Homo sapiens: one gene and its partner. The protein of the gene in region 1 purifies or fractionates together with the protein of each later gene. This does not show direct contact. Each region holds a gene or a part of one and is shown on either strand. Other genes may lie near its edges.

Region 1 (5,068 bases):
AGACATTTGTGACTTCTATTAGATTTGATAATGTAATTTTATTTATTTTTTTGAGACAGAGTCTCACTGTATCACCCATGCTAGAATGCAGTGGCTCAATAATGGTTCATTACAGTCTTCACATCCTGGGCTCAGGTGATCCTCCCACCTCAGCTTCCCAATTAGCTGGGACTACAGGCACACCACCATGCCCGGCTAATTTTTTTGTATTTTTTTGCAGAGACAGGGTTTCGCCATGTTGCCCAGGCTGGTCTCAAACTCCTGGGCTCAAATGGTCCATCTGCCCTGGCCTCTCAAAGTACTGAGATTACAGGCATGAGCCATGGTACCTAGCTGGTAGTGAAATTTTTGGTTATTTAGGTCTGTTTTAGTTATTTAGGGAATTTTATAAATATTCATAAGAGATAACATTGAGTTCTTTTCTAATATTACATTCTCTCATTGACCTTCTTTCCTTCTCCTTTGACATTACCCAATAAGATGTTCAAAAATTTTCCATTGGGATGGTGAAATATCTTTTATTATTTATTTGTCATGCTTAACTACATTTGGTCTAGAGGAAACCAGTTACCAGCTTCCAGATTTTCTGTTAGTATAATCCCAGAGGATGTGCCGAATCCTCCAACTAATCAGTTGCAAAAAAACATGTGAAATTTTATCTACCAGGGTCTCTCATTAGAGACCCAGTGCCTATAGTGTTTTTTGGTGGCTGGCTTAGTCTGTTTTTTGTTGCTTAAGAATAATCTGAACCTGGATAATTTATAAGGAACAATATTTGTTTTTTACTGTTCTGGAGGCTGGGAAGTCCAAGGTTAAGGCTGGGCATCTGGTGAGAACCTTCTTGCTGGTGGGGACTCTGCAGAGTTCTTAGATGGCATAAAGCATTACATGGCAAGGGCCGGAGTGCCTAACTCGGGTCTCTTCCATCTTATAAGGACACCAGTCCCCTTCCTGAGATAACTTATTTATTCATTAAGCCATTGATCCATGTATACATTAATCTATTCATGAGCTCTGAACCTTCAAGACTCAATCACCTTTTCAATCCCCACCTTTTATTACTCCCACTTTGCGGATTAACTTTCAACATGTGTTTTGGAGGGGACAACCATTCAAACTCAGCAGTGGCTGATCACATACACTCCCTCTGCTGAGTTTGTAAGATTCTAAACTCTCAGAACATAGGAGTTAAGAAAATAATGTACTTTTTGCACAAACAGTTTAGATACAATCGAGCTCTGTTATTAGTTACATTGGTGGGGCACTCCCTAAATCCAGTTCCTAGACACCATAAAAGGTCCAACTTTGAGAATAAGAATTTGTAAGGACATGCAGTCTCAGGACTGCTAATGGTAGCTCTCTTCTGCACAATAGGTAGTAGGACTTTGTCAGTAGGACTTTGACAAGAACTACAACCTACTACAGAAATAGACATTAGGGTGATGCAGGCAATAAGACTCATTTAACTCACCAAGAAGAGACCTGTTCCTATTCAACTGTAACTTTACCAAACATGTTGAATTCTACCATCAAAATGGCTGTGTGAGAGAAAGTGAGTGTAAAGAGAATATGAGAGAGTTTACTACATCATTGAATAAATGCTTGGAAAGCACAGCATCATATGAAGTTTATGAACTGAGTATAGTTTTTTCAGTACTGTCACTCAACCTTTCTCCTCTATCTATGTGGGATGTTTCAGGACGCAGTGGCCTTTGAGGATGTGGCTGTGAACTTCACCCAGGAGGAATGGGCTTTGCTGGGTCCATCACAGAAGAATTTATACAGATATGTGATGCAAGAAACCATCAGGAACCTGGACTGTATAAGTAAGGATGATACCATGTCTTCACTTAATCAATTACAGACATTTGTTTCATGGTCATCAGTGCTGTTCAATGATTTGAAATATGGAAAGGGCATATGATGGACTCTTGAACAACACAGAATTCAGAGGTGACAGCCCTGAAAGAAGTTGTACATCCTCATCTAACTTTTTGTCCACCATAGCTTAAGCCGCCATTGACCAGCAGCCTTACTGGTAACATAAACAGTTGACTGGCTGGGCACGGTGGCTCACACCTGTAATCCCAGCATGTTGGGAGGCCAAGGTGGGCGGATCATGAGGTCAGGAGTTCGAGACCAGCCTGACCAACGTGGTGAAACCCCATCTCTACTAAAAATACAAAAATTAGCCAGGCGTGGTGGCGCATGCCTGTAATCCTAGGTACTCAGGAGGCTAAGGTAGCAGAATCACTTGAGCCCAGGAGGCAGAGGTCGCAGTGAGCCAAGATCACGCCACTGCACTCCAACCTGGGTGACAGAGCGAGAATCTGTCTCAAAAAAATAAAATAAAATAAAATAATAAAAAAAAGTTGATTAATCCATATTAATCCACATATTGTAAGTCATGTATTACATACTATATTCTCACAATAAAGTGAACTAGAGAAAGAAAATATTGATAGGAAAATCATAAAGAAGAGAAACTATATTTACTATTCATTAAGTGTATGATTAAAAGGTCTTTATCCTTATCTTTACATTGAGAAGGCTAAGTAAGAGGAGGGATTGATCTTGGTGTCTTAGGGGTAGCAGAGACTGAAGAAAATTCATATGTAGGTGGAGCTGTGCAGTTCAAACATGTGTTGTTCAAGAATCAACTGTAAGGCCGGGTATGGTGGCTCATGCCTGTAATCCCAGCATTTTGGGAGGCTGAGGTGGGAAGATCACTTGAGGTCAGGAGTTTGAGACCAGCCTGACCAACATGGTGAAACCCCGTCTCCAATAAAAATACAAACATTAGCTGGTTGTGGTGGCACGCATCTGTAGTCCCAGCTACTCGGAAGGCTGAGGCAGGAGAATCGCTTGAACCCAGGAGGCGGAGGTTGCTGTGAGCCGAGATCGTGCCACTGCACTCCAGCCTGGGCAACAGAGTGAGACTCTGCCTCCACCCCCAAACTGTACAGAATTAACTGTAGTTTGATGAACGAATCATGTATGATTGCAGTATACATAAAATCTTACTGTTTTATATAATTTTCTAATAATGTATAGTGATTTTCTGGGTCTCCCTTTTAGGAATGATATGGGAAGAACAGAATACTGAAGATCAGTACAAAAATCCTAGGAGAAATCTAAGGTAATTTGCACTCACAGGAGAAAGTTATGTTTCTGAAGTGATTCTCAGAGTAAAAGGAAATTTTAAAAACAAAGAAAATGAACAAGTCCAGCTTAAATTTATTTTTTAATTTTTTAAATTAACTTTTTTTTTTAGTCAGGGCCTTGCTCTGTTGCCCAGGCTGGAGTGCAGTGGCATGATCTTGGCTCACTGAAGACTCGACCTCCCAGGTTCATGTGACCCTCCCACCAGAGCCTCCTGAGTAGCCAGGACTACACGTGCAAGCCACCACACCTCGTTAATTTTTGTATTTTTTGTAGAGACAGGGTTTTGGCATGTTTCCCAGGCTGGTCTTGAATTCCTGGGCTCAAGCAATCTGCCTGCCTTGGCCTCCCCAAATGCTGGGATTACAGGTGTGAGTCACTGCACCAGCCTAAATTTATTTATTCTTAAAAAATTTCCTCCTAAAACATTTTATAAGAATTTACATATGAGGCTGGACATGGTGGCTCATGCCTGTAATCCCAGCACTTTGGGAGGTTGAGGCAGGCAGATTACTTGAGGTCAGGAGTTTGAGACCAGCCTGGCCAACATAGTGAAACCCTGTCTCTACAAAAGTACAAAAGTTAGCTGGGCATGGGGGTATGCACCTGTAACCCCAGCTGCTTGGGAGGCCAAGGCAGGAGAATTGCATGAACCCAGGAGGCGAAGGTTGCAGTGAGCCGAGATTGCGCCACTGCACTCCAGCCTGGCGACAGAGCAAGACTCCGTCTCAAAAAAAAAATTAGCCAAGTGTGTTGGTGCACACCTATGGTTCCAGCTACTCATGAGGCTGAAGTAGGTAGATCACTTGAGTTCAGGAGGTCAAGGTTGCATGAACCATCGTTCTGCTACTGCACTCCAGCCTGGTGACAAAGCAAGATACTGTTTCAAAAAATAAATTAATTAATTAAAAAGAAAAGGAAAAAAAAAAAACCCAGCTGGTGTTGGGTTGTCTTGCATAGCATTCAGTTCATTCATGTTCAAACAGGGCATGAAGCCTACACTTTGCATGGTAATGATAAAAAGGTATATCTGGCCAGGCGCAGTGACTCACTTCTGTAATCCCAGCACTTTGGGAGGCCAAGGGGGGGTGGATCACGAGGTCAGAAGTTCGAGAACAGCCTGGCCAGCATGGCAAAACCCTGTCTCTACTAGAAATACAAAATTAGCTGGGCGTGGTGGCGTATGCCTCTCTAATCCCGGCTACTTGGGAGGCTGAGGCAGGAGAATCGCTTGAACCCGGGAGGAAGAGATTGCAGTGAGCCGAGATCGTGCCGCTGCACTCTAGCCTGGGTGACAGAGCAAGACTCCATCTCAGGGAAAAAAAAAAAAAAGTACATCCAATACCTATTAATACACATAAATAAATAATCATTTAGAAACAACTATTTAGTAACGTACTACTCATTTTTTACAGATGTCATATGGTAGAGAGATTCAGTGAAAGTAAAGACAGTAGTCAGTGTGGAGAAACATTTAGCCTCATTCGAGATAGTATTGTGAACAACAGCATTTGTCCTGGAGAAGATCCATGTCAAAGCGCTGAGTGTGAAGAAGTCATAATGGGTCATTTATCCCTTAATAGCCACATCAGAGTTGATTCTGGACACAAACCACATGAGTATCAGGAATATGGAGAGAAGCCACATACACATAAACAACGTGGGAAAGCCTTCAGTTACCATCACTCCTTTCAGTCGCGTGGAAGGCCTCACACTGGAAAGAAACGCTATGAGTGTAAGGAATGTGGAAAAACCTTCAGTTCTCGTAGAAACCTTCGAAGACACATGGTAGTGCAAGGTGGAAATAGACCTTATAAATGTAAGTTGTGTGGGAAAGCTTTTTTTTGGCCCAGTTTATTACGTATGCATGAAAGAACTCACACTGGAGAGAAACCGTATGAATGTA
Region 2 (3,660 bases), on another chromosome or scaffold:
TGTTATTCTTAGCAAAGAAGCTCTAGCCAGAAATTAAAACTGAATAAACTTTTGATTTTATTCATTTCCTCTCATAGTGGTTTATTTAATATATACAAATTTGACGTGCAGTTAAATAGACTATACTTTAAAATGTGTCATCATATTGAGAAATTACAGACGGTCTAACAAAACCACTCTCAAAAACATGTTTCAATTAAGTAACTGGTGTTTAGAGAAAGCTGTTCTGTCTAAAGTTACATAGTTCATTTTAAGCAGAAGAGGAATAAAAATATGCATTATCAAGATTCCTAGGGATGAGAATTCTCTCCCTTATCGTCTTTCCCATCAACTGTTTTCATCCTCATTTTCTATCATGTTTGTCTCAATTGCATGGCTCAAAGATTATAATGTTTCCTTGTTGTAACTAAGATTTAATGTACTGTTTTTGGAAAGACGAAACAAAAAATAAGGAAAACAAACACTAGGCAAAATTTTCTTGGGATAAACTGCAATTTGTTAAATAGTGAACATTGTATGTATATGTTTTCCAACTCAAAGAGGTCAGCTGCTGCATGCCTCTAATTCTACTTCAAAATGCTATGTTTGTGAAACTTAAGATGACTGTGTACATCACAATTCTTTGAAAAAGTCCAAAAATATTTCTAATAAGTACACACAGGTTGTTTGAGGCAAAAATATTGCTTTAAAAATCTGATACACTAATGCATTTCTTTACATTTTTGTTTACTTGTTTTTAAGTTCATGTTGAAAAATTATAAGCACCAAACAAATGTTTTTCTGAAAACACATCTTACTTGCCACGGATAGGCTTGTAATAGCAATAAGGGGGACAACACAAAAACTGAAAACATGACAATTTAGTTTCACATTTTATGCTTTTATAATAAAGTCTCAGTGAACATAGCTTTTACAAAGATTTTTTTCTGGCTTTTTGTATATGGCAAAGCTCCTCTTAGGTTCACAAGTTACTTGCAAAATGTAAAATTATGTTTCATTTAATACCATGCTTGAGTTGAGTAAAGTCTGTAAATGTAACATGTAAATAACCTTTAAATCATTACTATTTAATAAATTAAATGTATTGCATATAAATATTGTTACGATTAGGAGATGGACATTCTAGGAAGTAAATAATTAATGTGGCCAAGACCAGTAATAAAATTATATTTATTTTTTTTCTCCTTCAGCCAACAAATTACTCCAATCCGGTATATGCAAAATTATATATGGATGGGCAAAACTGTCGAAACTCCTTAGGAAGTGTTGATGAAAGGAAAGAACTGCTTCCAAAGAAAATAGAAATTGGTATAAGAGAGACAGTGGCATAATCAGTGATATCTTTTATATGCTGTATAAATGTATAAAATATAAGGATTACTTTTGTATGTTCCAACAGTATTATACTTGTTTTGGCATCAGCATTACCTCTTTCTTTATCTTTTTCCTGGTTAATTGTTTTCTGAGTTTTTTGGGTTTTATTTTTTGCTGATGACTATTGATTGACCATTTGTATGGTATTTTTATGAAAAAGAACTGCACTACAGTACAATTTACAACAATGCTGCTGATATGACACACCTTTGAATTTGTTAAAATTAAAAACAACGTATTCCTTTGTAGTGTGAATATGAGCAATCTATTTTATATGAACTTTTTTGGTTGTACTTAATCAACGAGGAGAATCTCTGCACTTTTCCATTATACGGTTTGAAGGCTGTAATACAGTGTCATATTATTTTTCTGTTTAAATTGATGGAAAAATGATTGAATGGTCAACTCTCTTCTTTGTGCCCATAAAGATCGATTCAGACTCTGCTGAAAATATATAGCTCTCACAAGTTCAGCATCACCTGCTTTGAAATTAGCCTTAGATTGCCAACCAATAGATGAGAATTTTGAGGAAAAAAATTAAAAATATGTAAAATTAATAATTTGCATGAACACAGATGACTACATTTTCCAAAACTTAGTGGACTCTATGTGATGTACTAAATGTATACACCTTGTAAGCAATAGTTATATTTAGGTGGTAGAACATAGCAAAAATATAACCGAAAGTTGGCCGACTGCACTTGCTATGGAATAAGACCTTTTATTCTCCCTCAGTCTCGAGATAAATAGCCAGCCTAGAGCACAACAGGGCATTGGGTACTTGCATCTTAGGTATTTCTTCCCAGTCACATCCATTTTGTGGAAGATTAACCCAACCCCTTACACTACACTGAACACTAAAGAATAATATATAAGCACACAAATTGGTGACAGAATTTCAATTACGTGAACGCATCCTCTTTGCTAGGTCAAAAAACAAAGGGCAAAGCAGACATTTTAGTATACAGAGTGATTGGCAAATATTTTCAAGATTTAATATGAGCAACCCATTATTTGCCCTATCCAAAATATATTCAAGGGCCTTCCAAGTTGTAGAAGAACAATGATCTTCCCATAATCAAAAGTGGAGAGTCGAAATGCTGTGCCAGTTGCTCTGGTATTCAGGTTTCTCTGGGTTTTACAGAACGCATGGACCCCATTCACGTTTGGTTTGTTTATCTTCAAATTTGAGTTGAAACGAGTGCGATTTATTTAAGTTGTATATAAAAATAAAAGGATAGCATTTTTATACAAATATCTTTAAAGGCACAAAAGATTTATTCACAAGTTTTGGAGGGCTTTTTGTTCCTCTGATAGACATGACTGACTTTTAGCTGTCATAATGTATTAACCTAACAGATGAAATATGTTAAATATGTGGTTGCTCTTTATCCCTTTGTACAAGCATTAAAAAAACTGCTGTTTTATAAGAAGACTTTTTGTTGTACTATGTGCATGCATACTACCTATTTCTAAACTTTGCCATATTGAGGCCTTTATAAACTATTGATTTATGTAATACTAGTGCAATTTTGCTTGAACAATGTTATGCATATCATAAACTTTTTCAGGTTCTTGTTTAAGTACATTTTTTAAATTGAACAGTATTTTTCATTTTGGTTATAATATAGTCATTTTGCCTATGTTTCTACAATGAAGTGTTAAATACTTTATAAAAAATTGTTGACTGACTTATTTAAATGAAATTCTACATATTTAAGAGCTTGTGTTGGGTAGTTTTTAAAAATAAGAAAATTCCTTTATGTAGCTTAAATATTCTGAGAGAACTGTTTTAGTAAACACGGCATTTTTATATCCTTAGAACATAATACACTCCAGGGGAAAACTGATTTCATTGTATCATCTTTCAATGCACAGTAGAGAAGGCATTTTCTGTCTTCATGGAGTAGAAACACTCCCCTTACTTTATCCTTTTCCCTGCCTTCCTGTGCCTGTCAGAGTCTCCATATTGCAATAGAAAGAAAGGTTCTATACACAGTAGCATGACAACCATGCTAAACAAGCCAAAGCTCTTCCTGTCCCTTTCTATTCCCCAAAACTGTACTTTATGGAAAATCAGATTTCCATTAGACGCTATTTCCACATTATTTTGTTAGAATGGTTATTTGCTATACCTACTTTTAGCATCAGACTAGAGATGGAAAATATAGGTGCGTCTGATTTACTTAACATTGAGTTATATTATTTGAAGGGGCCTTCTGATGTCAGAGCTGTGTAAATGCAACTGAAAATATTTCAAAGAACCCACAGAGTGGTGTGATATTA

Evidence for each region. Proteins that work in one complex are often made in the same cells at the same time.
Region 2: the proteins of ZNF563 (region 1) and LRP1B purify together in Homo sapiens (affinity purification with mass spectrometry; 2 studies listed by BioGRID and IntAct, with this or other methods). This does not show direct contact.

The regions. Positions count from the first base shown.
Region 1 is NC_000019.10:12,319,343-12,324,410, reverse strand, and holds part of ZNF563 (zinc finger protein 563), read left to right. Parts: intron 1-1,699; coding exon 1,700-1,826; intron 1,827-3,078; coding exon 3,079-3,139; intron 3,140-4,577; coding exon 4,578-5,068. UniProt on the Homo sapiens protein: May be involved in transcriptional regulation.
Region 2 is NC_000002.12:140,230,857-140,234,516, reverse strand, and holds the end of LRP1B (low-density lipoprotein receptor-related protein 1B precursor), read left to right. Parts: intron 1-1,190; coding exon 1,191-1,331; 3' UTR 1,332-3,094; downstream 3,095-3,660. UniProt on the Homo sapiens protein: Potential cell surface proteins that bind and internalize ligands in the process of receptor-mediated endocytosis.